Linked DNA regions of Homo sapiens: regions 1 and 3 are each linked to region 2. The links come from fine-mapping of genetic effects on gene expression. A gene starts in region 2. Each other region holds a variant in brackets. All regions are shown on one strand. Distances are from middle to middle.

Region 1 (10,818 bases), 250 kb before region 2:
CTAGGGAATAGTATATCAGAAATGATAAATTAATTCCAAAATGTCTTAACAGCCAAAAAGAACATTTGAGTCAGATTACAAAAAAAAAAAAAAACCACCAGATGCATTTGTACAAGACATACTAAACAGCAGCAGAACTCTATTCTACCCTAACTGTAGTCTCCACCACCACATGTAAAGAAAAGATTAGCGATATCTCAGGACATATATTGGAACTATATACATGCATAATTTGGTTACAATGAAAACAGTTATCTAATTTACTGATTAGATATCTGTTTATACAACAGAGTTGCTAATCTGCACTTGTACATTTGAAGCAGGGGAGGGGTTTAGGGAGGGTAGAAAACTTGAGGTATATGGCAGAGTGGAGAGAGAGGGTTGTGTATGGAAAGAGCTGCAGTGAGGCCAGTGCACTCTCATTTCTTTGGGTGGCAGTAGATTTGTGCCTCATCATGGCCCAGTGGACAATAAGGAAGTAACTGTGCTTTAGATGTCTGCTTGGTATTCTATCAAGAGATCCTGGCAAGTGTGTAAGGATGAGGAGCCAGAGAAGAGTCCATCTAAGAAATTCTTCAAAAGACGTAAAGCCAGAAAATAATCTTCCTTATTTGCAAATGATAAAGAATTTATCAAAGGTGTCTCTAAAGAACCAACCCATGACACATGTAAAATGCCACTATTTAAACACATGCCACAAAGAGGGCTTAAGAAGGAGGGAAAGAAAAATCAATAGAGAAGGGAGTGTGCTCTCTCTCTGAACTACTTTTCTCTATGCCTGGATAAAGATGGACCCAGAAGGGGAAGGGAAGGATGAAAGAAAGAACAGCCCTCACTGCTACCTACAAGTGGCTTTTGGGCCAAAGTCAGGTTTGAATTTAGGAAAAAAGGGATATGAGTTTGAAACTTTAAGCTGGATAAACCAGAATTGGATTAGATTGTTTCATGCCTTTAAATGACGATAAAGCTACGGGATCCTCTCAAGGTGTAATTGAAAGATGGAAAATGAAGAGTCTCCATGCCATAGTCAAAGGTAAAGATTACAGGGGAAAGAATAATGCTTCATGCTTGCACCTCAAGTTTGGAAATTCAATAAAGTGGTTATGTTAGTTAAGTGGTAATATTTAATTATATCTCCAAAAGTGTGTTCTTTTAAATTTAAGTTTACATAACGGATTATTGGATAAGCTTGACTCTTTCTCTTAAAACATCTAATAAGAGAAGCCCTTATGATAAAAATCAGTGAAATCGCATCCAAGTCTTGATTCCTTTTGCATTTCACATTATTCCACATGAAATTGATTCCTCAGTTATTGACCTTTTCCTATTGGTTTTTCAATAATAGTTCACATATATTTGCACTGGTGCTTTTCTAAAACTTCATGTTATTGTTTTTTATTTTTATTATTGCTACAATAATACAATGTCACTTTATCAAAATCTACTTGTGTAAAATTGGAAGAGACATAATACCCCTAAGTAATTTGAAGAACAAAAATCTCTTTAACTTAAATGTATTTTTGAAGCTTTGTGAAGGAAATGATACTAACTTAGAAAGGATAAAATATTTAATGTTCAATGCATTATTTAATATAAAATAATATGAACTAAGTAATTCTTAAAAACCTCACAATATTCCATTCTTATTTTGAAAAATTTGTAGAAGTTAGATGAAACAACATTTTCAGTCTCATAGAATTGACCTGGTATGTTGAGCTTATCATCCTTGAAGCTTCTTTAGGGTTACCTGGCCAAGGGTCTTTGCCCAGGATTTGTCTTTATTAAATTCAAAGTACTACTCACTTCAGCAGCAAATATACTAAAATTGTGATGATACAGAGAAGATTACCATGGCCCCTACACAAAGATGACACACAAATTCATGAAGCATTCTATATTTTTCCAGAAAAGATTGGGATTCTATTTCCAAAGTGCTGAAAGAAAAAAAAAACTGTCAACCCAGAATTTTGTATCCTGCCAGAATAAGCTTTATAAATGAAAGAGAAATGAAGTATTTCCCAGACAAGCAAACGCTGAAATAATTCATCATCACTAGACCAAACTTACAAGAAATGCTCAAAGGAGTTCTTAACATGGAAAATAAAAGGTTGACACTCATCATCATAAAAATACATGAAAATATAAAACTCAGAGGTCTTATTTAAAAATTACACAAAGCAAGGAAATGAAGAAAGCAAGTAGGAAACATTACAAAACCCCACAAATCCATAAAGACACACACAAAAAAAAAAAACAGAAAAAAAATCAAAAGAAACAAAGAATCTACAAAGCAACTAGATAACAATGAACATTATGGCAGGAAATAAATTCACATATATATTTATCAACTTGAATATAAATTGATTAAATGCACCACTTAAAAGATACAAATTGGTGGAATGGATTAAAAACAAACCATAATTCAACTACATGCTGCTTACAAGAAACTTACCTTACTTGTAAAGACACATAGGGTGGTGGTAAAGAGATGGAAAGGGATATTCCACACACACAGAAACCAAAAGCAGGCAGGAATAGCTATACTTATATCAGATAAGACAGATTTTACACTGACAACAGTAAAAAAATAAATGACAAACAAGGCCATTAGATAATGAATGATAGAGTTTGATTCAACAAGAATATATAACAATCTTAACTATATATGTACTCAACACCAGATAACCCAGATTCATAAAACAAACATTACCAGACCTAAAGAAAGAGACATACAGCAATACAATAATAGTAGGGGACTTCAACAGCCCACTGATAGCACTAGACACATCAAGACAGGAAATCTACCAAGAAACTGTGGACTTAAATTGGACTTTAGACCAAATTAATCCAAAAGACATTTACAGAACATGCTACTCAACAAATGCAGAATATACATTTTTCTTATCAGTGCATGAAACATCGTGCAAAATAGACCATAATTTAGTCCATCAAACAAGTCTCAATAAACTTTTGAAAATTGATATTATATCAACTATATTCTCAGATCATAGTGGAATAAAACTAGAAATCAATTCAAAGAGGAACTGTCAAAACTACATAAATACATTAAAATTGAACAATTAAATGAATGATCTTTGGGCCAATTATGAAATTAAGAGAGGAATTTAAAAATCTTTCAAAATAAATTAAAACAGGGACACATCATACCAAAACATCAGGGATACAGCAAAAGCAGCGCTAAGATGAAAGTTTACAGTGTTAATTACCTACATTAATAATTAGAAAGATCACAAATTAACAACTTATTGTCTTACCTCAAGAAATTAGAAAACAAACAAACAAACCAAACCCAAAGCTAGCAGAAGATAAAAGCAAGAATCAAAAAAAATAAATGAATGAAATTGAGACCCCAAAACAATACAAAGAATCAACAAAATGTAAAATTGTTTTTTGAAAATATAGACAAAATTGTTAGACTGCTAACTAGAATAACTATGAGAAGAAAAAATTCAAATAAACATAATCAGAAATGAAAAAGGAGACATTACAACTGATACCACAGAAGTATAAAATATCAAGGACTACTATGAAGAACTGTATGCCTGTACACTTACGAACTAAAAAATCTAGAAGAAATGTATAAATTCCTGGAAATATGCAACCTTTCAAGATTGAACCTGGAAGAAATATATATCCTGAACAGATCAATAATGAGCAGTACAATTGAAGCAGTAAAAAACAAACCTCCCAACACAAGCCCAGGATCAGATGGATTTACAGATGAATTCTACCAAACATAACAAAGAAGAACTGATACTTATCCTACTGAAAGTCTCCCAAAAATATTGAGGAGGAGGGAATTCTCCCCAGTTCATCCAATGAAGCCAGTATCACTCTGATACCAAAGTTAAACAAGAACACAGGAACAACAACAAAAACAGCAAAATGACAAACCAGTATTCTTGATGAATATAGATGCAAAAACCCTCAACAAAATACTGTCAAACCAAATCCAACAGGACATCAAAAAAACAATATACCATGATCAAGTGGGATTTATTCCAGGAATGCAAGGATTATTCAATAGCTACAAAACGACAAATTTGATTTGCCACATACACTGAATTAAAAACAAAATTCATATGATCATCTCAATAGATGCAGAAAAACATCTGATACCATTCAGCATTTCTTCATGATTAAAACACTCAGCACACTGGGCATAGAAAGAAAATACCTCAAAATAATAAAAACCATATATGATAAACCCAAAATAATAAAAACCATATATGATAAATAATAAAAACCATGTAAGATAAACCAACATCATACTGAACAGGAAAAAATTGAAAGCATCCCCCTCTAAGATCTGGAACAAAACAAGATGCCCACTTACGCCACTCCTATTCAACACAGTACTGGAAGTCTTAGCCAGAGAAATCAGGCAAGAGAAAGAAATACAAATCATCCAAATTGGAAAAGAGAAAGTCAAATTATCTCTGCTGATGTTATTATCTTATACCTACAAAAGCTTACAGACTCCTCTAAAAGACCCCTAGATTTGACAAATGACTTCAATAAAGTCTCAGAATACAAAAATCAATATACAAAAATTGGTAGCATTTCTGTACACCAATAATGATCAAGCTGAGAAGCAAATCAAGAAGTCAATTTCATTTACACTAGTTACAAAAAAATCAGTATAAAACACTTAGGAATATATTTAACCAAGGAGGTGAAATATCTCTACAAGGAAAACTAAAACCCACAAATAAAATAACTTGCAGATGACACAAAGAAATGAAAAAACATTCCATGCTCATGGATTAGAAGAGTCAATATTGTTAAAAATTATCATATTGCCCCAAATGATCTATAGGTTCAATGCAATAACTATCAAAATACCAATGTTGTCTTTCACAGAATTAGAAAAAAAAATCCTAACATTTATATGAATCCCAAAAAGAGCTCAAATTCCCAATGCAATCCTAAGCAAAAAGAACAAAGCTGAAGGCATCACATTACCTGACTTCAAATTATACTACAAGGCTATTGTCATATAATAAGTAGTATAGTAACCAAAACAGAATGGTACTGGTATAAAAGTAGACACACAGATCAAGGGAACAGAATAGAGAATCAAGAAATAAAGCATACATACCTACAGCCAACTGATCTTTGACAAAGTTATCAAAAACATACACTTGGGGAAAGACACACTATTCAATTAATAGTGCTGGGAAATTTGAATTGTCATATACAGGAGAATGAAACTGGACCCCTATGTCTCAGCATATACAAAAATTAACTCAAGATGAATGAAAGACTTAAATGTAAGCCCTGAAACTATAAAAATACTAAAAGAAAACCTAGGAAAAACTCTTCTGGACATTGGTCTAGGGAAAGAATTCTTGATTAATACTCAAAAGCAAATTCAACAGAAACAAAAATAGACAAAATGAGATTTAATTAAATTAAAAAGCACTACATAGTAAAAGAAATAATCAACAGAGTGAACCAATAACCTGCAGAATGGGATTAAATACTTGCAAACTATACATCGTACAAAAAACTAATATCCATAATCTACATGGAACTCAAACCACTCAACAATAACAAATCAAATTAACTGCTTAATAAGTGGGCAAAGAACACACACAGACATTTTGCAAAACAAGACATAGAAATGATCAAGAAGCAGATGAAAAAAAATGTTCAACATCACTAATTATCAGAGAAATGCAAATTAAAACCGCAATGAGAGACCATCTTTTTTTTATGCTTTAAGTTTTAGGGTACATGTGCACAACGTG[C/T]AGGTTAGCTACATATGTATACATGTGCCATGTTGGTGCCCTGCACCCATTAACTCGTCATTTAACCTTAGGTATATCTCCTAATGCTATCCCTCCCCGCTACCCTCACCCCACAACAGGCCCCAGTGTGTGATGTTCCCCTTCCTGTGTCCATGTGTTCTCATTGTTCAATTCCCACCTATGAGTGAGAACATGCGGTGTTTGGTTTTTTGTCCTTGCGATAGTTTGCTGAGAATGATGGTTTCCAGCTTCATCCATGTCCCTACAAAGGACATGAAATCATCATTTCTTATGGCTGCATAGTATTCCATGGTGTATATGTGCCACATTTTCTTAATCCAGTCTATCATTGTTGGACATTTGGGTTGGTTCCAAGTCTTTGCTATTGTGAATAGTGCCGCAATAAACATATGTGTGCATGTGTCTTTATAGCAGCATGTTTTATAATCCTTTGGTATATACCCAGTAATAGGATGGCTGGGTCAAATGGTATTTCTAGTTCTAGATCCCTGAGGAATTGCCACACTGACTTCCACAATGGTTGAACTAGTTTACAGTCCCACCAACAGTGTAAAAGTGTCCCTATTTCTCCACATCCTCTCCAGCACCTGTTGTTTCCTGACTTTTTAATGATCGGCATTCTAACTGGTGTGAGATGGTATCTCATTGTGGTTTTGATTTGCATTTCTCTGATGGCCAGTGATGATAAGCATTTTTTCATGTGTCTTTTGGCTGCATAAATGTCTTCTTTTGAGAAGTGTCTGTTCATATACTTTGCCCACTTTTTGATGGGGTTGTTTGATTTTTTCTTGTAAATTTGTTTGAGCTCATTGTAGATTCTGGATATTAGCCCTTTGTCAGATGAGTAGATTGCAAAAATTTTCTCCCATTCTGTAGGTTGCCTGTTCACTCTGATGGTGGTTTCTTTTGCTTTGCAGAAGCTCTTTAGTTTAATTAGATCCCATTTGAGAGACCATCTTACATCAGTCACTTATTAAATGGTAGAAAAAAATAATGGATGTTGGTGAGGATGTGGAGAAAAGAGAACACTTGTACATGGTTGGTGGGAATGTAAATTAGTGCAATCTCTATGGAAAACTGTATGGAAATTTCTCAAAGAACTAAAAATAAATATATCATTCAGTCCAGCAATCCCACTACTGGGTATATGTCCAAAGAAAAAGAAATCATTATATCAAAAAGATACCTGTACTTGTTTGTTTATCACAGCACTACTTATAACAGCAAGAATACAGAATCTATGTAAGTGTCCATCAATGAATGATTGGATAAAGTTATTGAATACACACACACACACATACAAACACACACACGTACAGACACGAGTGCTATTCAGCCGTCATGTATTTTGCAGCAACATAAATAAAACTGAAGGACATTATTTTAAGTGAGATATCTCAGAAAATACTGCGTGGTCTCATATGTGGGAGCTAATTTGTACATATGGACATAGAAAGTGGAACGATAGACAATGGAAACTCAGAAGGGTGGGAGGTTGGGAGCAGGGTGAGGGATAAGACATTCCTTAATGGGTACAATTTTCATTACTCAGCTGATGACTATGCTAAAAGCTCAGAGTTGACCACTATGCAACATATCCTCGTAACAAAACAACACTTGTACTCACTAAATCTATAAAAACCAAATGAATCCAAAGCACGCTTTAACCACTAGAAATAATTCAATACAAAATAAAGTTGGCAATAGCTAAAAATGAAAAAGTTAACATTATTATTAACCAAAATGTAAGATATAGTAAAGTCTTTGGCAACATTTAGATTCATAAATTCAATACAGGTAAAAATGGACTTCATAGAAATAAAGATTTTTTTCTAAGGTTCCTAGTGGCAGAAACTATATTTAGGAGAATGTGATATCAATGGTGTTGCCAGGCATGTGAATATCACACAGTATGGTGTATTAGTTAAATTCCCAGGTTTGAAGCATCTACTTGAATTCCACTCCCAAATCTGTACCAAATGTATATCTTTGGAAAGATGCTTAGGTATCTATGCCTCAGTTTATTATTTTTTATTTGTGAAATCAAAACAATATTATCTATCCAGGCTGCTAGAAGTTATATATAAAATTTAGAAGCATATATTTAGACGTATATATATATATATAAAATTTATAAGCATGTCTGGCAAATAGTGTCTGCTAAATAACTATTATCTACTAGTGCTGTTAAGATTAGGGAATGATATTCCAGACAAAGAGAATGCTAAGGCAAAACTAAAGGGGGAAATGATTGTGGCATATTTTGAGGAAGAGAAAGCCTGTAATGGGTAGGCTAGTCAAAACTTAAGAAGGAGAGTAGGCACTCATGGATCCTGAGGAGCTCTATAACTAAAACATAAGCTTGGATTTCACTCTAGGTGCAGTGCTGAACACTTAGATGAATTTAAATGCTGAGGAGAATTGTTTTGTGTGCAAGGAACAGAAAGTAGGATGGATGGCTTTCCCTACACATACTAGAAAATCTGAGTTGAAAGTTAAAAGGTAAATAGGGTAGTTCAAAGAGAAAAATCAACTGATGGTGGTCTTTAGTGCATTAATTTAAAGGCTTTGTATTTGAGATAATAGAGAATTAGAAACCACTACTATTTCTGAGAAGGGAAGTGATTCACTTAGTCACTTACTTAGACAACATTAAACAGAAAACGACCCCGGAATTACAGATTTTTATAGAAAGATGCTGATGGCTTTTAGGAGGTTGCTGAAGATCTGTATTGTTTTATCTAAGTTATATTACCAAGAGAAAATTATGCCAGTAAAAATGAAGTTGAAAATATTTTGATGGATTTCAAATTTCTATCCAATCTGAGAAATTCAGGAGATATATTAATCACTATTCTAATTATATGAATAATTTGGACAAAGGAAGAAGAAAAAGGGGCTGCTTATCCGGGTTAAATTATGCAACTACTGATAGAGCCTGAAGGTGAAAAAAATCCTATTTTAAAGAGCTGACACAAAACAGCATAAAATTTCAAATAAACAAAAGCTAAGTAATAAAAATGATATGTATTATTTCACATAAAACTTAGCCAATATGTATTAGTTCACATAAAACTTAGCCAATAAGATTTTTATATTTTAAAATTATATTAATTATATAATTATACATATATTCATCTTGCCTACCTACATATAATGCTGGAGGGTATTTGTGCAATATGCCCCCAGCTACACATCTTATTTTAAAACTTCATCACTTTTAGGTTATGATGTAAATACTAAGACATGAAGATGCAGCTAAGGATTTTATAGGCCATTGTAGGACTTCAGTGAAATAGTGAGCCATGTGACAATTTTGAGTAGAGAAATGGCACTATATGATATCATTTTTGAAAGCTTCACTGTAGCACTTTTGTTAATTATCAGTAGTAGAAAGGCAAGAGTATAAGCCAGGAGACCTGCTTAGAGATTATAGTGGTAATCCAGGTAGGAGATGAAAGTGGAAATAGTGGAAGAGATGAGAAAACACTAGAGTATAACATACACAATATTTAATATAGAGCTGAAGAGATTTGCAGGTGGATAGACTGCAAAGTGTGAAAAAGAGGAATCAAGAGTGAATCCCAAGGTATTTTTTGGACTGTAACTTGGGAGGATTGAGTCAATGCATACTAAGAAAGGAAAGAGTGGGACTGGTTTTATGAGGAAAAAATCAGAAGCTCATTATTGGGTTTAAATGCCTGTTGAAATTCAGGGAAGATTATAAATGGGCAGTTGAATATAAAATCCAGTTTAGGACAGAGACTATGCTGAAGATAAATTATTGGGATTTGTTAGCATATATAGGATGTTTAAAACCATGAGACTAGATGAGACAAAATAGCAAATGAAGACAGCAGAGAAGAGAGCAAAAGGACTGAGACTAGAACACTGTAAAATGTAGAGGTCAGAGAGAAGAGGTATCAGCAAAAGCTAGTGCGAAAGAGCCAGCAATGAGGAAAGAGAAATCGAATAGTCAGTTGTCCTTAACCACACATTGGGAAAGTATTAACACATAATGAATTGATTTAAAGTACAAAACACTATGCTTCAAACTAATGAGTTTAAAACAGAAGAATTATGAAGAAAAATACAGTTCTTCTATTTTGGATACTGCTTTAAGGTAAATAAAAAGTACTTTCCCAGTTAACTTTTTTACTTAAACTCAAGCATAGCATGTCTGTTTTGTGATTTTATCTATCACTGTTTCCAAAAGTCTGCAATTACCAGTGAGTTAAGGCACTTAGGCTTTATTACAAAAGTTGGGGAGTGTGGAGAGCCCAATGCAAGCTGACAAAAAAGAAAAATAAGTTTTTAGAACATCCGTGACTAAAAACTATGAATCATAAGGGAATAAAATAATAGAACTGTAGACTTGGACTGAAAGAGCCAATGCACAAAAAAATGAAGAAGAAGAAGAAGAAGAAGAAGGAGGAGGAGGAGGGGGAGGAGGAGGGGGAGGAGGAGGGGGAGGAGGAGGAGGAGGAGGAGGGGTTCAATCAAGAAGACAATCTAGACTCAAGAAATCAGAAACACTATTTATTAGACATGTGTAATACCTAATAAATAATGTACTAGGCAACAAAATGTTAGCTAATACCACAACTTGATAAAATTCATTATATCTTCTAAGTATATAACCAAGTATATATATACTTCATCACTCATATATATATACTTCATGATGTAAAGTATATAGATATGTGTATATATATACACTTCAGTGCTATGTATACTTCATCACTCATATATATGAGAGAAAGAGAGAGGGAAGGAGAGAGGAAAAGAGAGAAAGAAAGAAAGAGAAAGAAAGAAAGAAAAGAAAAGAAAAAGAGAGAAAGAAAGAAAAGAAAGAGAAGGAAAGAAAAAGAAAGAAGAAAGAAAGAAAAGAAAGAAAGAAAAAGAAAGGAAGAAAGGAAGGAAGGAGAGAGAGAAAGAAAGTGAGCTGAAAAACAAAAGGAAAGAGGAAGGAAAGGAAGGAAGGTGAGAGAGAAAGAGAGTGGGAAGGAGAGAAGGAGGGAGG
Region 2 (9,872 bases):
AACTCTCTCCCTAGTACCATCCCTGGGGCTAAACAATCAAATAAGGCATAAAACAAACAAAATAACAAAAAGCCAGTGAAGAATAATAAAATAACACAAAGAAATTATAAATAAAATGCTAGAAATGACATCAATCCACATAGTTGTCATGCATTTCCAAAATTAATTGTAGACTCAGAATGTTGAAGCTATTATGCAAAACACCAGGAATACAAAAATTTCCAAATTCAAGTTCCCAGACTAGTGGCAGAATCAAACCCATAAAGAAAAAGGCAAATGTGTGACAATAGATGATGGAGAAGAAGATAAGATTGATCCTTTCTAAGGACATTAAGGAAAGCGTCACTGAAGTAACATTTGAACTGGATTTTGAAAAAATTGTAGGTTGCCAAGTAGAGTGAAGACATCTTCAAGCAGAAGAAATACCATGTACAAAAGGCAGCATAAAAGTAGATTAATTCTGTGTTAAAGATAATGGGAGACAGAAAAGGAGATATTCATTCTCCTCAAGAAGCTGCATACCACACTAGGAAACATCAGCATATGAAAACTCCTAGACAACAGTGTTAAGAGTCCCAATAGCTCAACTGTATGATGTATACTCTTACTGCTGTCCAAGTTCAGAAAAAAGAGCAGATCAAAACAAACTGCTTTAACTATAGAAAACTTTGTGGATGATGTGGGATGCAAGTGAATTACACTTCTACATAATTTCATTTGATCTTACCTTAGGTCTTTTCATGATTCTAGCTTTTCTTTACAAATGCTGCTCCCTTTAATTTTAAGGTTCCTCTCACTTAACCTTGCAATAACTTTCAGGTGTAGTTTAATGCTAATTCATTGAACTTTTTGCTAACTCATTGAACTGGGTAAGATATGAAGTGTCAAAGGTGAGCAGAAAGCTATAAAGAAACCAGGGTAATCCATGCCACATTCAAGACAGTGAAGGCGAACTGTTTAATGAAAGCCAAACACGACGAGCATACTACCTGGGAAAAGCTACTGACCAAAAGAACATTCTATACCCCATCAATGCAACCGCTTGAAATTTCAACTCACCCACTTTCCCATGCCACCTGGATCCCACCGCACTATGGAGCCCCTCTGTCCATGGGTTCTTTGGAGGAAGAAAGGGGTAGATGTGGGAGGATGCTGACTACCTGAGGAATTTCCACTAAGCCATTTGCACCAGCTAGTGGTCTCTTGGATATCTTTGATCAGGTACATTTCCTCTCCCTCCATTTAGAAGCCCCAGTGAAAGCTCCATAATATACTACGTAAAAATGTTTTGCAAGTGAATTTCATTTGAATTCCGTTCATTTGTGCCACCTCTATCACCAGCATGGGATAGTTAATTGGGGTCGGGGCACAAGACAGCCTGTATTGCCTCTTCTTACAAGATTTAAGAAAGTAACAAAAATAAGGGCAGAAGATAGAAGTAATACTTTTCTGGGGGAAAATGTGTTTTTGTTGTGTTTTGGCTTCAGAGACCAAATAAGGGGAAAGGGGCGATAATTCTATAGTAGTTTAGAAAAGGAAGCAACAGATGGGGTGGCAGTGGAGAAGTCCAGGAAGCAAAAGAGTAAAGAGGAGGTAGAAAAACCAATGTCGTTTAAGAACAGCTAGGATGATTCATGCAGTATGCTCTTATTATCCACAATTCTGTACCTTGATCTCCTGGAAATTATGTGTCCATTTATAATGGCTCCTTTACTCAAAGAGCCAAGGACAAGCTACCGAACATGCCTCCAGTGGTTTAAACCTAGAGAAATAGTGTTCATTGTGCCAGAGGAATATGTGTTCCAGGTATTCAACACACAAACTGAATTTATTTCAAGACAGAAACATTATTATACAGTGGTTTGATTGGGGCTTCTTATTAGGAGAACATTATGCTTCAGGTATTATGGGTCAGATAAGCAGGCTTTAGTAGTCTAGCTTAAAAACTGACTAGGTGTTCTATTACTTGTCTAGCGAAATGAATTAACAGTTGAGAGGACTCTTCCTACAAATAAACTTTCCCATCAGGGTCCTTTAGTAAGCACCCTCACCTAGAGGAAATAAGGCAATGTTTGGTTAAATGCGTAAATAGAGGAGAGACGGAGGGAGCCAAGGGAGGAAAGAGGAGACAGGGAGGGAGGCAAGAAGGGAGGCCCTTAAAAGGCATGTGAGCAATGCCTTTTACAATAGCTAAATAAAAATGACCCAGACTGAATTCCAAAATCTATTTTTTAAAGGGTGATTCTTTCATACCCTTTGCAAGTACATTAATCACGGTGCCAGATTGTGTTCCTAAACAGCAATATTTAAAACTGTAAGCAGTAACTGTACGTTAAGCTCATGTGACTAACAGTCTCCCTTTAAAAAGATCCAGATATTTACTTTTCGGCGCGGCCCGGTACAACTGAGCGCCAGGAATATGAACTGACATGCCAGGGTGGGGCATACGTTCCCTGTCATTGTTGGAACTGCCTTAAACAGGGGCCTGAAAGAGCTATAAATTGGCTCGGGGCGGAAAAACAAAGGCTTAAGGTTATTGCCCTTACCTCTCCCGTGCCCCATTCCCAGCCCGAGAAGGGATGGAATCTCACCAATAAGTCACCACTTTTCTCCAGACGAAGTTGAGGCTTCTTTCGCTTGAAGACTCGCTTTAGAAAGCCACGGGGAGCCTTCCGCTTTATCTGCTTCCTCTGGGAGACTATGGTCGACAGCGCCATCCTCTCTGTCAAGTACCAGCTGCCTCAGCTTCCGAGGTGCTCTCTGTATCGCACACAAGCTCCGGGGACACTGGGCCAGCGAAAACAATCCGGTCCGTATGACGCTTCTTCAGGCAGAAAAACCTCAGTCCGAACGTTCGAATCCGCCGCCAACGGAACGCGCCCGGCGCTCAGTAGTGACGTTAACCCTGAGCAAGCCCCGCCCCCGGAGACGCCTGCCTGTAGGTGGAAAACGCCCACGGTGGGCGGGTCCCGGGAATACCTGACGTCATTGAGAGCCTGCGTCCTCCTTTCATCACTTTCTGTATTATAACTTTTGCTCTGTGGAAGTGTTTCTGCTAGGTTCCCTAGAGATGATTGGAAGTTGTGGAGAGAGAGATTGGTAAGCCAAGGCAGTTCTTCAAGCACTCACTCTATACTGTCCCTAATACCAACGAACAGAAGTTTGTGATGTTTTATCAGGATTCCGACAGCACTAATGCCATGCCTTCCTAGCAAGGAATGCATGATTTTCAGATACTAACAGTTAAGAATTTTACACTTCTACGTAATTTCATTTGATCTTATCTTAGGTCTTTTCATGATTCTAGCTTTTCTTTACAAATGCTGCTCCCTTTAATTTTAAGGTTCCTCTCACTTAACCTTGCAATAACTTTCAGGTATAGTTTCATGCTAACTCACTGAACTTTTTGTTATTTCTTCAAGCTGTTAATTTCTCTATTATCTGTGCTATTATAGAAGTATTAATAGTTATCAAACCTTAATGTGCATCAAAATCACCTGGGGGACTTGTTAAACTACTGTTCGCAGGGCCCAGCTCCCAGTTTCTCATTCACTAGATCTAGGAGATACTCAAAATTTGCAATTCTAACAAGTCAGGGACATTGGCATTTGCTAGTCTGCAGACCAATCTTTGAGATCCGCTGTGATTTTAATTATAATTATCTCTAATACTATCTCTATTGAGATTTCAATATTATGTTATTGTGATCTCACGCACACAAGTGATCCTTCTACTATCTGGCCTCCCATTTCTGAGACCTCCTCTCTGCCAGTCATCTTCTACACCCTTGAGTTATTCATGCATGTGGTCATACCCTAGGCGGTGTCATTACTAAATACCTTTACCTTCGGTTTGATCTGCCACTTTCAATTTAGTTGTCTCTCTTCAACCGTATCTTCTATCTTTTGAATTTACTCCCTCCAACAATTCTTCGATGCTACTGGGACTACTGTCCTATCTTTTTCAGTTCCTCTCACCACACCCCCCAGCTCTGCCACCCCACTCTATGCCTTATCTTCCCTCCTGTAGTCCATTATGCATCGATCATCATAATACTGCCCTGTATTTCTCCACAACTTTATAGCCATTCTCTTTTATCCTCACACTAACCTGGCAATATTCCAACTCTGCTTAAGTTAAAATCTCAATCTATTCAACACTTGTATCTGTGTATTAATATTGGCATAAGAAAACAACACTCACAGGTATATGTCTGATCTCAATTCAAATTCATGACCACTCATGTGGGCTCTAAGTACTGCTACAATCCTTTGATATTTCCTAAAGCCATTCATTCATTTACTCATTCTCTTACATAGCTATGTCATGCCTTCTATTTCTTACCTACCCCATTCTCAATCTCCAGTGATGACATTGCTTCAACAACAAAATAAAATTTAAAAAAATCCATGGAGACTTTCTGTATGCTTTCACCACCCCATCTATCCATCAGTCTCCACCTGCTCCCATGGATGAGATGCCAACTACTCCACTTGTGCCCGAGATCAAGCCCTTTCCCCTTTCTTAAGGACATTTCTGTAGCAATTCTCCTTGCTCCTCTGCTTCATGAATTTTCCTTCTTTGCCAATTTTTTTCCATCAGCACCCACACAGCTTATAATATCTCCAGGCTTTTGAAAACCCTCTCTTAATCCTACCTTTTGCTGTTGTCCTTCTACAGAACAAAACAAAACTAGAAACCGTTGGCTAAATTCAGTGTCTCCAAATACTCTTCGCTTATTCTCTGTTAAATCCAGTACAATCAGACTTTTCTAGCTATCTCTTCACCAAAATTGTTTTGGCCAACGTGACCAATAGCATCATAGTTGCAAATCCTATGGCCAATTTTCAGGCTTCAGTTTATTCATCAAACCAGAAGTATTTGTTGAGTTTCATGATTTTTCCTTCCATAAAACAACATATTTAATTGGATATGATTCTCTTTTGTTTTTCTTTGTACTTGATAGCACCTCAGTCTCCTTTTCTGGTTCTTCCTTTTCTTTTTGATCTCTAAATTTTAGAGTACCCCACAACCACATCCTGAGATTTCTCCTCTATCTACATTCATACCCCATGTGATCTTCTCCAGTATAAAGGTTTTAAATACCAAATTTACATCTCCAGCTGATTCTCCCCTAAACTTCAGGCATGTATATCCATTTCTCTGATGGATTAGAATTCTAAAAGTCATCCTAACACCATGTCAAAAATTAGGGCTTGATCTGCCCTTGCTCCCCAAACATGTTTCTCCCAGTCTCTTACCTATCTTATGTGCTAGCACTTCCAACCTTCCAATTACTTAAGCCAAAATCTTGGAATCGGCCTTAGCGCCTCTCTTTATCTCACCCCATATTCAATCTTTCAGCAAATCCTGTCAGTTCTCCTTGCAGTATCTGATCACATCTCACCACTTCCACTGCTACTACACTTGGCCTGGACACGATCATTCACATGGCTTATTGCAACATCCTCCTGAGAGTGTCTCAATCTGTTTCTATTCTTTCTCAACAGAAGAGCTAAATTTAATTCAGATTATGTCATTTCAGGACTCACTAGTTGTTTCCTCTCTCCTTTAAAATCAAAAAACAAAGTCCCTATAATGACCTGAGGCCTTACCTGCCCCCCTACAAATGCACATGCACTTACAAATACATAATTAACTTACTTACCTTCTACAATGGAGCAACTCACTCTCCACCGTGTTAGTCTCCTTAATATCTTCAATGGTCCAGATGTTTTTGTCCCCCCAAAATTCATATGTTGAAATCTAATCATAATGTGCTGATATTAAGAGATAAGGGCTTTGGAAGATGATTATGTCATGAGTGCAGAGTCCCCATAAATGGGATTAATGTCCTTATAAAAGAGGTCCCAGAGAGCTGCATTCCCTTTTCCACCAGGTGGGAACATAGCTAGAAGGCACACCATCTATGGGCCCCGAAAGAGGGCCCTCACCAGAACCTGACTTTGCTGGCACCATGATCTCCGACTTTCCATCCTTCAGAATTGTGAAAAACAAATTTCTGTTGTTTATAAGTGCTATAGTTTGAATGTTCCCTTTAAAACTCACGCTGAAACTTAATCCACAATGTGGCAGTATTGAGAGGTGAGACCTTTAGGAGGTGATTGGGTCTCAAGGGTTATGTCCTTATGAATATTTAGTCCCTCCACGGGTTAATGGATTAATGGGATATCATGGGAGGGGAACGGGAACTGTGGCTTTATAAGATGAGGAAGAGGGTCCTGAGCTAACACATTAGCATGCTCAGCCTCCTCACCATGTGATACCATGCACCATCTCAGGAATTTACAGAAAGCCCCCACTGGCAAGAAGGCCCTCACCAGATGCAGCCCCTTCACCTTTAACTTCCTGGCCTCCAGAATTGAAAAAAATAAAGTTCATTTCTTATAGATTACCCAGTTTTAAGTATTCTGTAATAGCAAGAGAAAATTAACTTAGACAATAAGCCCCCAATCTATGTTATTTCTGTTATATCACCCCAAACAGACTAAGATAATATATTTCAGACAGACCTCAAGTACATGCAACACAACACACTCACACACCCATCAGGTGTTTGCACTAACTATTCCCTCTGTTAAGAATGCTTTTTGGCCAGGCGGGGTGGCTTAGGCCGGTAATCCAGCACTTTGGGAGGCCAAGGTGGGCGGATCACTTGCAGTGAGGAGTTCAAGACCATCCTGGCCAACATGGTGAAACCCTGTCTCTACTAAAAATACAAAAATTAGCTGGGTGTGGTGGCGTACACCTGTAATCCCAGCTACTTGGGAGGCTGAGGCAAGAGAATTGCTTGAACCCGGGAGGCAGAGCTTGCACTGAACTGAGATGGCACCACTACACTCCAGCCTGGGCAACAGAGTGAGATTTTGTCTCAAATGAAAAAAGAAAAAAAGAATGTTTTTTTCCCATTTATCTGCATAGGTGGCTTCATCACCTCTTTCAGGTTTTTGCTCTGACAAGTATCAGACAAACCTTCTGTTTACCATAGAAACACATGTAACTATATATATGCCTAGAAGCTCATGTACACACATACATATACATACCCAGTCATGCGCAGAATCTGATCTCATCCCAGCTCTGTGTTCAGTAGTATTATGTTGGTAGCTAGAAACTGGTGATGGTATGTGTACTTACAGCATGGAATTTGGCAAACGCCAAAATTCAGATATTATTATTGTTGTGGTTGTTATTTCTGAAAAGCAAGTTATTAATGAATTACCAAAATAAATTACACATATCTCTAATGGCTTAAATCCCTAACCCTCTCTCTGTGGTTCATTTTTCTCTGTAACACTTTTTGCCATCTAATGTTTGCTTCTGCACAGAGAAAAATTTTATTGTAGCTTTATTTATAATAGAATTGGAGACAAATAACATTTATTAAGAGAGTAATAGAGATACATGTTGTCATATGTATTCGTTTTCTTTTGCTAATGTAACAAATTATCACAAACTTATGGCTTAAAACAATGGAAATTTCTTATCTTACAGTTCTGAAGATCAAAAGTCTTAAAACCAAGGTGTTAGTGTGTGGCATTCTGTCTGCGGACTCTAGGGAAGACTGTTTCCTTGCCTTTTCCAACCTCTAGAGGGAACCTGCATTCACTGGCCCATGGTTCCTTCCTCCCTCTTAAAAACACATCACTCTAACTTTGTTTCCATCATCACATTGTCAATCTACATAACAAAGAGAGAGACGTTCTCTTAAAAATAATATTTATTCAGGAACAGGGCATTGTAATGGGAGTATGCATGCCATAGTAAAATTTGTGTGTACTGAGAGAAGTAAAGAAAGACAAAGGCGTTTGTTTTGGTTTTGGTTTTAGTTTTTGAGAGAGAGTCTTGCTTTGTTGCCCAGGCTGGAGTGCAGTGGCACCATCATGGCTTACTGTAACCTCTGCCTCCCAGGTTGAAGCAATTCTCAATTATCCTGCCTCCACCTCCCAAATAGCTGGGACTGCAAGCACATACCACCAGGCCTAATTTTTGTATTTTTATGTGACACAGGGTTTTGCCATGTTGCCCTGGCTGGTCTCGAACTCCTGGCCTCAAGTGATCTGCCCCCCTCAGCCTCCCAAAGTGCTAGGATTACAGGTGTGAGCCACCGTCCCTGGCCAAGAAAGACAAGGGCTTTAAAAGAAAACATGAAGAGGATTACTTGTTTTGAGACAATGAACCTTGGCTATGGTGCCAGTCTGAGGTTGGACAGGCAGATGCTGGGCAGATGTCCTTGCAGAAGTATTTTTTCTGTAAGATTGCAATGGCCTTTGTGCAAAGTTATGGTTTTTGCAGACCCTTTTGTGATAGTTTTTGTTATAAGGCATTTATGACTCTCCCACTCCACTTCATGACCTTCCCCAGCTCTATTTGTCAGGTGTTTTTCTTGTTTGTTTGTTTGTTTGCTTGCTTTGAGATGGTGTCACATTCTGTCAACACAGGCTGAAGTGCAGTGGCACAATCATAGCTCACTGTAGCTTCAAACTCCTGGGTTCAAGTGATCCTCCAACCTCAGCCTCCTAAGTAGCTGGGACTCCAGGCATTCACCACCATGCCCAGCCAATTTTTAATATTTTTTTAATGACAGAGTATCACTATGTTGCCTAGGCTGGCCTTGAACTCCTGGCCTCAAGCGATCCTCCTATCTCAGCTTCCCAAGTCACTAGGATTACAGGTATGAGCCACCATCCCAGCGCAATATGTCATTTTTTAAAAATATGAATGAGTCCATTTTGATGTCAACAACTTTTATATTTCCCAATGTTAATCAAGACCTTTGTCTAAAAGCACTGCTGATAAATCATCCTGTAGTTCGGTTTTGATTGTCCCATGGTGCCAGGATGGACTTATCTTGGGTATAAGATACCAATAGGTCTGGTCCCACATTGGAGGGAGTGAATGGCTACTAAAAGTCAGTTTCAAAATCCATTTAGCCAGATTTGAACAATAGAAAGGTTTAAAGAGAGTGGCTCTCCAGCTAAGCCTGTGGTCCATTATTAAGTTCAATTTTTGTCTGTTCCATAGTCTTTTGCTATCATCTCAAAGTGCTGGATCAGCTTTATTCTGTTAGTACTTGTATTGCTGCACAAATTTAACAAGTAACAGATACACAGCTTAAAAGGGGGAAATACCAGGTAAATTAGTATTAATATGACAGTCTCAGTTTGCGTAATGGTATTGAGCCACAAACCTAGGCTTAAAGGCAACCAGTTTAAATAAATCAATGACCGTTGTCTTCCAAGTGAAAAAACTAGGCATTAAAAGGAATTAAAGTCTCATTATGATATGGAGCCATTTTCCATCATCTTGGAAAAGCTGTCTAGAGCATGAAAATATAAAGTTCTTGTGTTTCTTTGTAGTTTGAATATCTCTGGCTATAGTGTCAGGTAGTAGGGTAAACTTTCTGTGTAACCCATGCATTAGGCATGAGACTTGTTCCTTAAAATTCATCTACTTTCAGCTTATAGGGCTTCAAGAAGAGAGTAGTTTCTCTTTTAAATAATTCTATGGAAGAAAATTGGATTGGAGGAAACTAGAAGAATTTAGGATCTAGTCTAGTCTACAGGTAGATAACAAGAACTTGAAAGCAATGTGCAAAGCTACAATCTAATAACAGATGTAGTATAGCTTTTCTTTAGAAATGTAAGTTTTTCTTTCCATATTGATAACATAGGAATCAGATTTTAAAACCTCTTTGGGATAGGAAGCCAAACCAAGGTAGACTTTAGATTTAACTCGTGGTCTACAATCTCTGGACCTGCCAAAAAGTGACAGTTTTTATTCATTCACTGTAAGCCTAGGAACCCTTGAAATGAGGTATTCTATGCATATTCTCAAATATGACGCTTTAG
Region 3 (10,818 bases), 46 kb before region 2:
GCCCTGACAATGTAAACTAGTATTCACAGGCTGGATGAGACAGAGTTGCAGAAATGGAAAAGAAAAGGATTCTTCTCTCTAGGGACATAACTAGAGAAGGCAGTTTTGAACAACAGAATCCCAAGAAATGTTTGGGAGAAATCAGTGCCTCATTTCCTAAAGGAAGCCTAAGGAGGTAGAAACCTTTGGAAACGTTTCCTATTAACAAAAAACAAAGTACTCTTACAGTAAAATTTAAAAATGTGACCAATTCATCTGCAACTGTAGATAGCAATTGTCTCCTATGTGGTCCCACATCTGTGTCATGGCAGCAGTAGAGATAGTTAGAAATTATCCTGTGTTGGAAGTGAGTTGGAAGCATTCTTGGTGTCCATCAGTTAGAGAGTGATAGGTAAAAGGTAGCCAATGCATACAAGGGTATTATGTTACAGTTAGAAGAAACAGATTGTTTCAAAGAACAACAGAGATGGATCTTTAAAAATTAAGTCTTGGGGAAAAATTAGGAAACAGAATGAGATCTACAATTTTTTCATTGACTACTTATCCTCTGCCTCCATAATCATCAAATCTATGGAAACCCTTTGAATGCTTGCTTTTTCATCTAGTCATTCATTAGATATTTCAGCCCCTATTATGTACCAGCCCAAGAGCTACATGCACACTATTTGATATTAAACAAGAAGTGTTCTACCCTCAAGAAGCTTAAAATCTAGTAGGAGTGGCAGAAAAGTAAATAGGCAATCACAATGCAATAAAATAATTATTAGCATGTATTCATTCTCTTTCTTACCCTTTTCATCTTCTTTCCAAGTGAAATGTCAGTTTACCAACTGATAGAAAGACACACCTAAAGCCCAAATGACTATAATGGCCTCCAAGTACATCAACCAAGTAAGCAACGTCCCATGCATTCTCTCAGACAGCTGAAACTCATTAGTTTCCTTGGGCAGTCCTATAAATACTCCACCCAAACATGAACAGTAGGTCCTGACCTTAGTCAGAAAACTGACAACCAAATGTCCTGTGTGTTATCCATCTGTGGTATTCACTATGACAACAAGAACCACTTCAAAAACAATATGTGGCATTTGATAAAATAGAAGGTGCTGGAGGGAAGAGACCATCAGTTCAGTAAAATTAGATCCAGCTGTGAGGGACTCAGGCCGGTGCTATCTGTAAATCGCCTTTTTCCCCCTGCCCTGTACATTATAGCAATCTACTACAGATTACAAGAGCACGGCCAAAAGCCATATGTTTGGCATCATATGAATAGCATCTGGTATTTTTTAAGATACAACTAAAAATGTTGAAAACACAATAAAACAACTGTCATTCACTTAATGTTTATGCTTATATCTTAGCTCATAGATGGTTTTATGACAAATAAACAGTTGTATGAAGTCTCAGTTTAGTCACCTTCCTTTATACATTTCTTTCCTTGGTGAATTACACTTTTGTCTTTCTTTTTGGCTTGGTCTGAGTGTCCTTTTGTGCTACTGTATATGGTGAAACGTTGTATAAGCAGAATGAAGCTATCTTTTAAGGTGGATTCAGCCAAATAGTCTGCAAGGCCATAAATATTATTTACACTCAATTCTTTTTACTAGAAGTCAGTCGGGCTCTGGCTAGTATGTTTCATAAGGTCTAGAATTCAGGATTCCATTAGAGTAGTAAGGGAAAACCACATGCAGTTGGCACTTTGGAAAGTGGACATGGGCAGTTTTTCTGGCCTATATACAAACTATCATTCTTGATCAAGTCTATCCTCTGATTTGGAAACTAATTTAGGCATTTTGACAAGTGTACCTGTTACTAATTGGTAACCTCAAAGCGGTTTATGTAAACCCAATAATCGGTAGAAACCTCTTAGTTACTGATTTAGGAAGACACTTAACCCCTTGCTGAAACAAATTAATTATATCGACTGATTCATGTCTTCTTTGCATCTGCCCATACAATATTGCAGTTAGGCTTAAAATTTTAAGGTAGGAAGTGTTTCTTTTCTGTCTTCAGAAGCCAATTCAGGAAATGATAAATATACTAATTGCACTTGAAAGGCATATAATAGAGAGGATGGCAAAAATATTACTATGGCTTTTTAGAAAACCACAGTTTAAAAAATGGCAACTTTCCTCCGTGAAATTGGGATATAATTTCCAAAATCAAGCTACGCCGTATATGAAACACCACATTTATACTTAATGAATACTTCTAATCACTCTTTCTTACTTCAGAGTTTACACTTTTCATTGTGATTTATTTTTGAGAGTAGCTAGTATGTGATCTGGCCTGCAGATATGTAGATTTCATATCCAAAAAAAGATTATAATAACAATAACAATAAAGGTAAAGATGAGTTAGGACAAGTTCTCAGTGAAAAGTAGAAAGGCTTGGAATTTATTTATTAAAAGAAAAACTAGAAAATCTCTTAGTTAATTTATAATCAAAATTAAGGATTTATACTCTAGATTTATTGTTTCACTAGTCAGTTAACTCTCTAACTTAGTTTCTCTAAATAAATCACTCAGTCATTTAAAAATAACTAATTTATTTGTAGTAAATTATTTTTAAATTAGTGATGTTTAATGGTATTACATGGACTAAACTCCAAAAAGTCTGCTTTAATAGGGCACAGAATGTAATTTTTAATTATATTTCTTCCTACCTTGGCACTCCCATGCTACTTTATTCCAATTATTGTACTTATCAAGATAAAATATATTTACTATAATTAGACTATGTGTTCTTCTAGTATCAAGTTCATGTCTTATTCATCTTTGTGCCCCTAGTGCCTACCTGGAAGAAGCTAACTTGTAGGGCAGTGGAGGGGGAATAAAAAAGGGTGTTGAATAAAAAAATAAATTATTTGAAAGCAAAGCAGCTGGTCAGTTTGGAGACTGTTTCTCTAGTGTACACTGCACAACTATTTCATCTCTTTAAAGATATAAACCCTAATCTGTGCCAATCTGTGAAACACAAACCCATTAAAATGGCAGAAGGCGCAGTGTACATAATTCAAAGAGCAATAAAAATTGACTAATGCAACTGATGACCATTAAATTCCAAGCAAGGAGACTGATATAGTTAAATAGTACTGGGCATGTTTAATAGTGCACTTTACTATATGAGTTATAGATCAGTCACTGCTAGTTTGGTGCGAGGATGGAACATGGCAGCAGATTGACAACATTTCCCTCACAGAGATATTCTCCCTCCATTTATACACATGGGGAGTTTGTGTTATAACTGAAAGACAGTAAATAGTCTGACTGAGGTAGATGTTACAAGTGGGAAAGAAAGTAGCCTTTGTTTCCTACCTGACCATATGGGTTAGATTTGAGCTCTTACTGTCAAATGACAGAAGGCCAAGTGAAAATTAATTAGATCGTCTGCATATCTAAAAAGATAAAATTGTACAGAATGGTTTGAAATAACTCCTACTAATCTTGAAACTCACTCCGAAGGATAATTCCTTTTACCTGTTATAATATTCTATATTTCAAAAGAATACATTTATACTCTCTTGGTTTATGAATTTTAGGCATTACCAACTGAATTCTAGTTATCTGAAAGTTTAGCTTACCTATTGAACTAATCTCTTCTCCTCCTTCTTTTCAATATGAATGTATTCATCTGTTTTCATATTGCTATAAAGAACTGCTCAAGACTCAGTAATTTATAAAGACAAAAGGTTTAGCTGACTCATAGTTCAGCAAGGCTGGGGAAACCTCAGTCTTACAATAATGGCAGAAAGCGAAGGGGAAGCAAGGCACCTTCTTGAATAGGCAGCAGGAAGAAGTACCAAGCAAATGGGGAAGAGCCCCTTATCAAACTGTCAGATCTCATAAGAACTCACTCACTATCAGAACAGCATGGGCAAAATGGCTCCCATGATTCAATTATCTCCACTTGATCTCTCCCTTGACATGTGGGGATTATGGCAATTACAATTAAAGATGAGATTTGGGTGGGGACACAAAGCCTAACTATATCAATGAATAAGCAATATTTAGTCTTCTTTCATAAAGTTTAAGTAATATATTTCCTCATTTATTCCTTGTTGCATCAACCAAAGTAATAGTATCTCTCAAAGGACATGAGTTTGTTCTTTTTTATGACTGCATAATATTCCATGGTATATGCACCACATTTTCTTTATCCAGTCTTTTATTAATGGGCATTTAGGTTAATTTCATGTCTTTGCTATTGTGAATAGCACTCTGATTAACATATGTGTGCACATGCCTTCATGATAGAACAATTTATATTTCTTTGGGTATATACCCAGTAATGGGATCGCTGGGTTGAATGGTAGTTCTGTTTTTAGCTCTTTGAGGAACTGCCACACTGCTTTCCACAATGGTTAAACTAATTTACATTCCCATCAGAAGTGTGTAAGTATTCCCTCTTTGCAACCTTGCCAGCACCTGTTATTTTTTAACTTTTTAATAGTAGCCATTCTGACTGGTATGAGACAGTATCTTATGGTGGTTTTGATTTACTTTTCTCTAATAATCATTCATATTGAGCTTTTTTTCATATGCTTCTCCACCAAATGTGTGTACGCATTTGAAAAGTGTCTGTTGATGTCCTCTCTCCACTTTTTTAATGGGGTTGTTTTTTCTTGTAAATTTAAGTTCCTTATAGATGCTGGATATTAGATCTTTGTCAGATGCATAGTTTGCAAAGATTTTTTCATTCTGTAGGTTGTCTGTTTACTCTATTGATAGTTTCTTTGGCTGTGCAGAAGATCTTTCATTTAATTAGATTCCATTTGTGTTTGCTGTTGTTGTGATTGCTTTGCTGTCTTCATCATTAAATCTTTGCCAGTTCGTGTGTCCAGAATGGTATTGCCTAGATTGTCTTCCAGGGTTTTTATAGTTTTGAGTTTTACATTTAAGAATTTATCCATCTTGAGTTGATTTTTGTATAGTGTAACAAAGGGGTCCAGTTTCAACTTTCTGCATATGGCTAACCAGTTATCCCAGCACATTTATTGAACAGGGAATGCTTTTCCCATTGCTTGTTTTTGTCAGCTTTGTTGAAGATCAGATGGTTGTAGGTGTGCAGTCTTATTTCTGGGCTCTCTATTCTGTTCCACTGGTCTATATGTCTGTTTTTGTAATAGTACCATGATGCTTTGTTTACTGTAGCTCCATAGTATAGTTTGATTGGGGATCATGGTGCCTCCTGCTTTGCTATCTTTGCTTATGATGGCCTTCGCTATTAGACTCTTTTTTGGTTCCATATAAATTTTTTAAAAGTGCTACAAATTTCCCTCTTAACACTGCCTTGGCTGTGTCCCAGAAATTCTGGTATGCTGTATCTTTGCTCTCATTAGTTTCAACGAACTTCTTGATTTCTGCCTTAATTTCATTATTAACTTGAAAGTCACTCAGGAGCAGGTTGTTCAATTTTGATGTAATTACATGGTTTTGAGTGATTTTCTTCGTCTTGAATTCTATTTTTATTGCACTGTGGTCCAAGAGAGTGATTGCTATGACCTCAGTTCTTCTGCATTTGCTGAGGATTGTTTTATGTCTGATTGTGTGATCAATTTCAGAGTATGTTTCATGTGCACCAGAGAAGAATCTATATTCTGTTGCTCTGTAGATGTCTATCAGGTCCATTTGTTGGGTTCAGGTCCTGAATATCTTTGTAAATTTTCTACCTTGATGACCTGTCTCATACTGTCAGTGGGTTGTTAAAGCCTCCCAGTATTACTGTCTAGGAGTCTAAGTCTCTCTGCAGGTCTATAAGAACTTGCTTTATGAATACAGGTGCTCCTGTGTTGGGTGCATATATATTTAGGATAGTTAGGTCTTCTTGTGGAATTGATCCCTTCATCATTATGTAATGCCCTTGTCCTTTCTGAATTTTGTTGGTTTAC[G/A]GTATGTTTTGTCTGAAATTAGGATTGCAACCCCTGATTTTTTTTTCTTTTTTCCATTTCCTTGGTAGATTTTTCTCCACCCCTTTATTTTGAGCCTATGGATGTCACTGCATGTGAGATGGGTCTCTTAAAGACAGCATCCCATTGGGTTTTGTTTCTTTATCCAGCTTTCTACTCTGTGCCTTTCAAGTGGGGGCATTTAGCCTGTTTATACTCAAGGTTAGTATTGGTATGTGTGGATTTGATCCTGTCATCAAGTGAATAGCTGGATATTATGCTGATTTGTTTGTGTGGTTCTTCATAGTGTCACTGGTCTATGTACTGAAGTGTGTTTTTGTAGTGGCTGGTAGTGATCTTTTCTTTTCATATTTAGTACTTCTTCAGGAGCTCTTCTAAGGCATTTCTGGTGGGAACAAATTCCCTCAGAATTTGCTTGTCTGAAAAGAATCTTATTTCTCATTCACTTATGAAGCTTAGTTTGACTGTATATAAAATTCTTGGTTGGAATTTCTCTTCATTTTATCAATGTTGAATATAGGCCCCCAATCTCTTCTGACTTGTGGAATTTCTGTTGAGAGGTCTGCTGTTGGTTTGACTGACTTCCCTTTGTAGATAACCATTCTTTCTCTTTAGCAGCTTCCTTCATTTCAACCTTATAGATTCTGAAGATTATGTGTCTTGGGGATAATCTTCTTGTGAAGTGTTTTGCAGGAATTCTCTGCATTTCCTGGATTTGAATGTTGGCCTCTCTAGCTTGGTTGGGGATATTCTCATGGATGATAACCTGAAATGTATTTTCCAAGTTGCTTCCATTCTCTTCATCTCTTTCAGAGGCACAAAGGAGTTGTTGACTTGGTCTCTTTACATGATCCCATACTTCTTGGAGGTTTCATTCATTATTTTAATTTTTTTTATTCTTGTTAACTATCTTATTTCAGAAATTAGTCTTCAAGCTCTGAGATTCTTTCCTCAGCTTGGTCTATTCTGCTGTTAATACTTGTGATTGCATTATATAATTCTTGTGGTGTGTTTCTCAACTCCATCAGGTCAGTTACATTCTTTTCCATACTGGCTATTTTTTTCTGTCAGCTATCATTTTATTGTGATTCTTAGCTCCCTTAGATTGGGTTTCAACGTTCTCCTAAGTTTCAATGATCTTTGTTCCTATCTATATTCTGAATTCTATTTCTGTCATTTCAGCCATCTCAGCCCAGTTAAGAACTTTTGCTGGAGAGCTAGTGCAATTGTTTGGAGGAAAGAAGGAACTCTGGCTTTTTGAGTTGTCAGAGTTCTTGTGCTGGTTCTTTCTCATTTTTGTGGGCTTATATGCCTTCACTCTTTGCAGCTGCTGTCCTTTAGATATTTTTTAATCCCATTTAATGACCTTCAAGGTATATATATATATATTTTTTTTGAGATGGATTTTCGCTCGTCACCCAGGCTGGAGTGCAATGGTGCGATCTCGGCTCACTGCAACCTCCTCCTCGCAGGTTCAAGTGATTCTCCTGCAGCTGGGATTACAGGCATGTGCCACCACACCTGGGTTTTTTGTTATTGTTGTTTTGTTTTTGTATTTTTAGTAGAGACAGGGTTTCACCATGTTGGTCAGGCTGGTCTCAAACTCCTGACCTCAGGTGATCCACCTGCCTTGTCCTCCCAAAATGCTGGGATTACAGGTGTGAGCCACCTTCAGGGTTTAATTGCGCTCTGAGGTGGGTTCAGTCGACTGGCTTCATTTCTGGAAGATTTTAGGGAGCCAAGGTTCAGCTCAGGACTTCTGAACTGTGTGCTCTAACTTTAGGGGACTGGTACTGAGCCCTGGTTTTGTGCTCTGACTCCTCGAGGTTAGGAACTTGCTGCACTAGCAGGACCAAGATGCTCTTGGACCACTGGTCACAACACTATGATGGGCGGTGCCAGCCAAAGCCCTTCATAGGGCAGTGACAGTGGGATCCATATTTATTCACGTGTCAGCAGCAGCAGCAGTGCGGCAAGGTGCATGTTGGTTGGCTGGCGGCAGGGTGCTAGAGGGTGCTGAGATGACAGGCTCCAGGTGAGAGTTCAGATAATGTTGGCTTTTGTTTCAAGAACACAGGGCAAAAAAAGTAGAAAAGCATTTCCCTGGGGCTTGAACAATGTTAGTCTTGACAGTGGATGTTCAGGATATTTAAGGTTACTGGTTGCATTAACAGAGCTGGACACTGGATCATGAGTAACAGAGGTAGGTGCTCACATATAGTTTAATAAAAGTGTATATGCATGCATTTGGGATATCTAGTCATCAACTAGATCTCTAAAGAAATGTGAGGCCCAAGGCTAAGGTTCTCTTGCCTAGTAATAAGGGTGATACTGCTGCCAACAACAGAAGTGACTCAGATGCCAGTAAAGGTCCTAAGACAACATATACAAAAAGAATAAATATCATCATTAGACAAAAACAAAAACATTCAACAATACTTGTTAAAACATGTTAAGGAAGATTCATTAAGGACCACTGAGGGACTACAGCAACAGGATTTGGCCGTGGAGGAGAATTGGGGTAAGGGGGATTCTTGCTGAAGACAGGCCAGAGTAGTTAGACATCACCTGGGGAATGGTGGAGGATAAAGAACTTGATCAAACGTTGAGAGTGATCAGATATCAAGGGTGGGAGGTTCTTGCCAAACTGTCTTAGCAGGGTTCTTTGCTAAAACTGGATTTAACAAGAAAGTACAAACACACGCCTAGGAGAAGGTTCAGATCCTGGCTAAAGTTCGATCAACAGAGAATCTTTGTCATTACTAACAGTGACTCTTAAAGGTTCCTATGTCATTGTTATTATTTCAGGAAAAAATAAACAAAGTTTTAAAAATAAATTTGACAAACTTTAAACTGCAACTTTCATGATGCAGGTATCATGTCTGTGGAGGTCACTGCCATTTACTGTGAATACTTGATGCCCAATAGGATCTTTAAAAATATGTATTAAATAAATAAGCAAATAAAATATTTTTATTTTGTCTACTATGCATTATGTGATAAGCTAGAGTTAAGACAGTGGGTGCCCCCTATCCATGGCTTCAAGGGGATACCAGAGACAAGATTCACATGCTAGAGTAGAATTTAGCAACCTCTCATCAGCCTTTCCACAACTGGGACAGCTCAACCTAAAGCACAGGGAAACCCTCTGCCATGAACAACATTACACACAACAGCAGAGCCATTGCTCATTACTAAGGTCATAGGTGAATTTCAGGGTTAAGTCAACACCAGATCTGAGTTCTCATTACTTTCAATTCAATACACAATTTGAAAGCAAGCCAGTTAATCTGAGAGGATATGTTTCAGTACTATGACAGCCTTATTCCAGCTTCAGCTTGGACTTTGGTTCCCATTACTTTCAATTCAATACACAATTTGAAAGCAAGTCAGTTAATCTAAAAGGATATGTTTCAGTACTATGGCAGCCTTATTCCAGCTTCAGCTTGGACTTTGGTTCCCACTCTGCTTCTGCTCCCGAGCTTAAATCAACTTCCAGTCTCTGTTCCAAATTGGAGTTGTGCCACAAGCAATTCCCCTGGCAAGTCACTTTAGTGATGAACTTTAGGGGTTGGTGGCACAACCCATGAACTTAATCTGGATGGGTAATTTGGAACTGGTAATGAAGCTTGATTCAATTTATCAGCTGCCAAACCTTGATTGAAATATTTAAATTCATCCAAGCTTCAGACAATTTATGGGAACTTTATAAAAAGAAACAGAGAAAAATAAAAGTTGTTGCAATAAAATGAAACACATTTTTGGAAAATGCCTACTTTTATAGCTGTCAAAGATTATACTTTTCATGGAATTATACTTTAATTCGTTTGATTTTTCTTTCTCCAGAATAATCACACATACTCGGACTCCAGGCCCAGGTAATTATATGAACATGTCAACTCATTTAATGACAGCATGGAGTTTTTACCAGTTATACGTAAATAGTGTATTTGTACAACTGGAAGTGATTTGCAACAACTTTGACTTATCAAGAATACTAACTTTAGCACTGATAAATATTAGTAAAATGTTGGATGGGATTCAGACCACATTGGTTGGAATAAACCAGTGTAGGTTTCAGGGGAAGCAGAGGGTTAGCAGCATAATAAAAATTAAGAGCATTAAATTCACCTAAAGGGCCAGGCTGACAGCCCTGGAGGCCAATATCTTTCCTTTATTCCCAAAGCATGTATAACATAGGCTTCACACTCAAGTATTAGTAAGATTTCCTCTAGTGTTCTTCCAATAAATTTAGCCATTTTCCATGAAGGAATGCCTTATATATATTAAAGAAAAAAGCTTTCACCTCATAATTTAAAATTTAATCTTAAAATTTCTTAATAAAAGAAACAATTATTTCCTGGGATTACGAAAACCTCCACTGTGAGTTTAAAGCACTTGGAGCTCCTTAAAGGCAGAAACTATGTCTATAAGACACATTCCTCACAGAAAGGGCTTGGTCCAAGGTGGGTGTTCTACCTATGCTTATTGAGTAAATTTATTAGTTAATATAATTTACTAATTTTTCAGCATTAAGTTAAAAAATTTCAATCAGAATAAGAGTTCACACATTTTGTAACTAGTACACAAAGGCCAGACACTGAAGTGCCAATTATCTACCCAAAAATATGTTGACTGAAACAATACAATGTATATTTTACAATGTAATATTTTTCCTATATGCAATAGAAGGTTAAATTCTTTAAATTTCTATATACAATATTTCCATTTACAATGCCAGTGGCTAATCTTTCTTGCTTTTTTATTTAGACCTATTTCTATGTGATTTTTTTCTTAAAGAATATGAGGTGTATTTCCTTTTTCTCTAAAGAGTGCAGCTATTGGAATTAGAAATATTTTCAAATTGTCACATAAACATGTCTGACATTCTGCATTCTATGAATCTCATT

Direction of the effects. Positions count from the first base shown, and alleles are read on the strand shown. Sizes are in standard deviations (SD) of each study's normalised expression. Not every link is listed here.
In carriers of allele C in region 1, the expression in B cells of the gene that starts at base 2,876 in region 2 tends to be lower than with T alone (moderate effect, 0.48 SD a copy in Fairfax 2012).

What was found. PIP is the estimated chance that this variant, and not a neighbour inherited with it, causes the effect.
Region 1: its variant is the best candidate, but not a certain one, in a credible set for the expression of CENPW in B cells (Fairfax 2012, PIP 0.78).
Region 3: its variant is the best candidate, but not a certain one, in a credible set for the expression of CENPW in subcutaneous fat (GTEx, PIP 0.55).

The regions. Positions count from the first base shown.
Region 1 is chr6:126,581,371-126,592,188 of GRCh38, reverse strand. It overlaps the pseudogene RNU6-200P. Among named protein-coding and RNA genes, the nearest start is that of MIR588, 100 kb to the right of the region's middle. The variant C/T (reference allele first, on the strand shown) is at 5,775.
Region 2 is chr6:126,333,119-126,342,990 of GRCh38, reverse strand. CENPW (centromere protein W) reads right to left here and starts at 2,876. Exons shown (of 3, transcript NM_001012507.4): 1 at 2,592-2,876. The coding sequence starts at 2,717. RefSeq lists enhancers at 2,657-2,706, 2,717-2,986.
Region 3 is chr6:126,378,722-126,389,539 of GRCh38, reverse strand. It overlaps a transcript of CENPW not described here. Among named protein-coding and RNA genes, the nearest start is that of CENPW, 44 kb to the right of the region's middle. The variant G/A (reference allele first, on the strand shown) is at 5,891.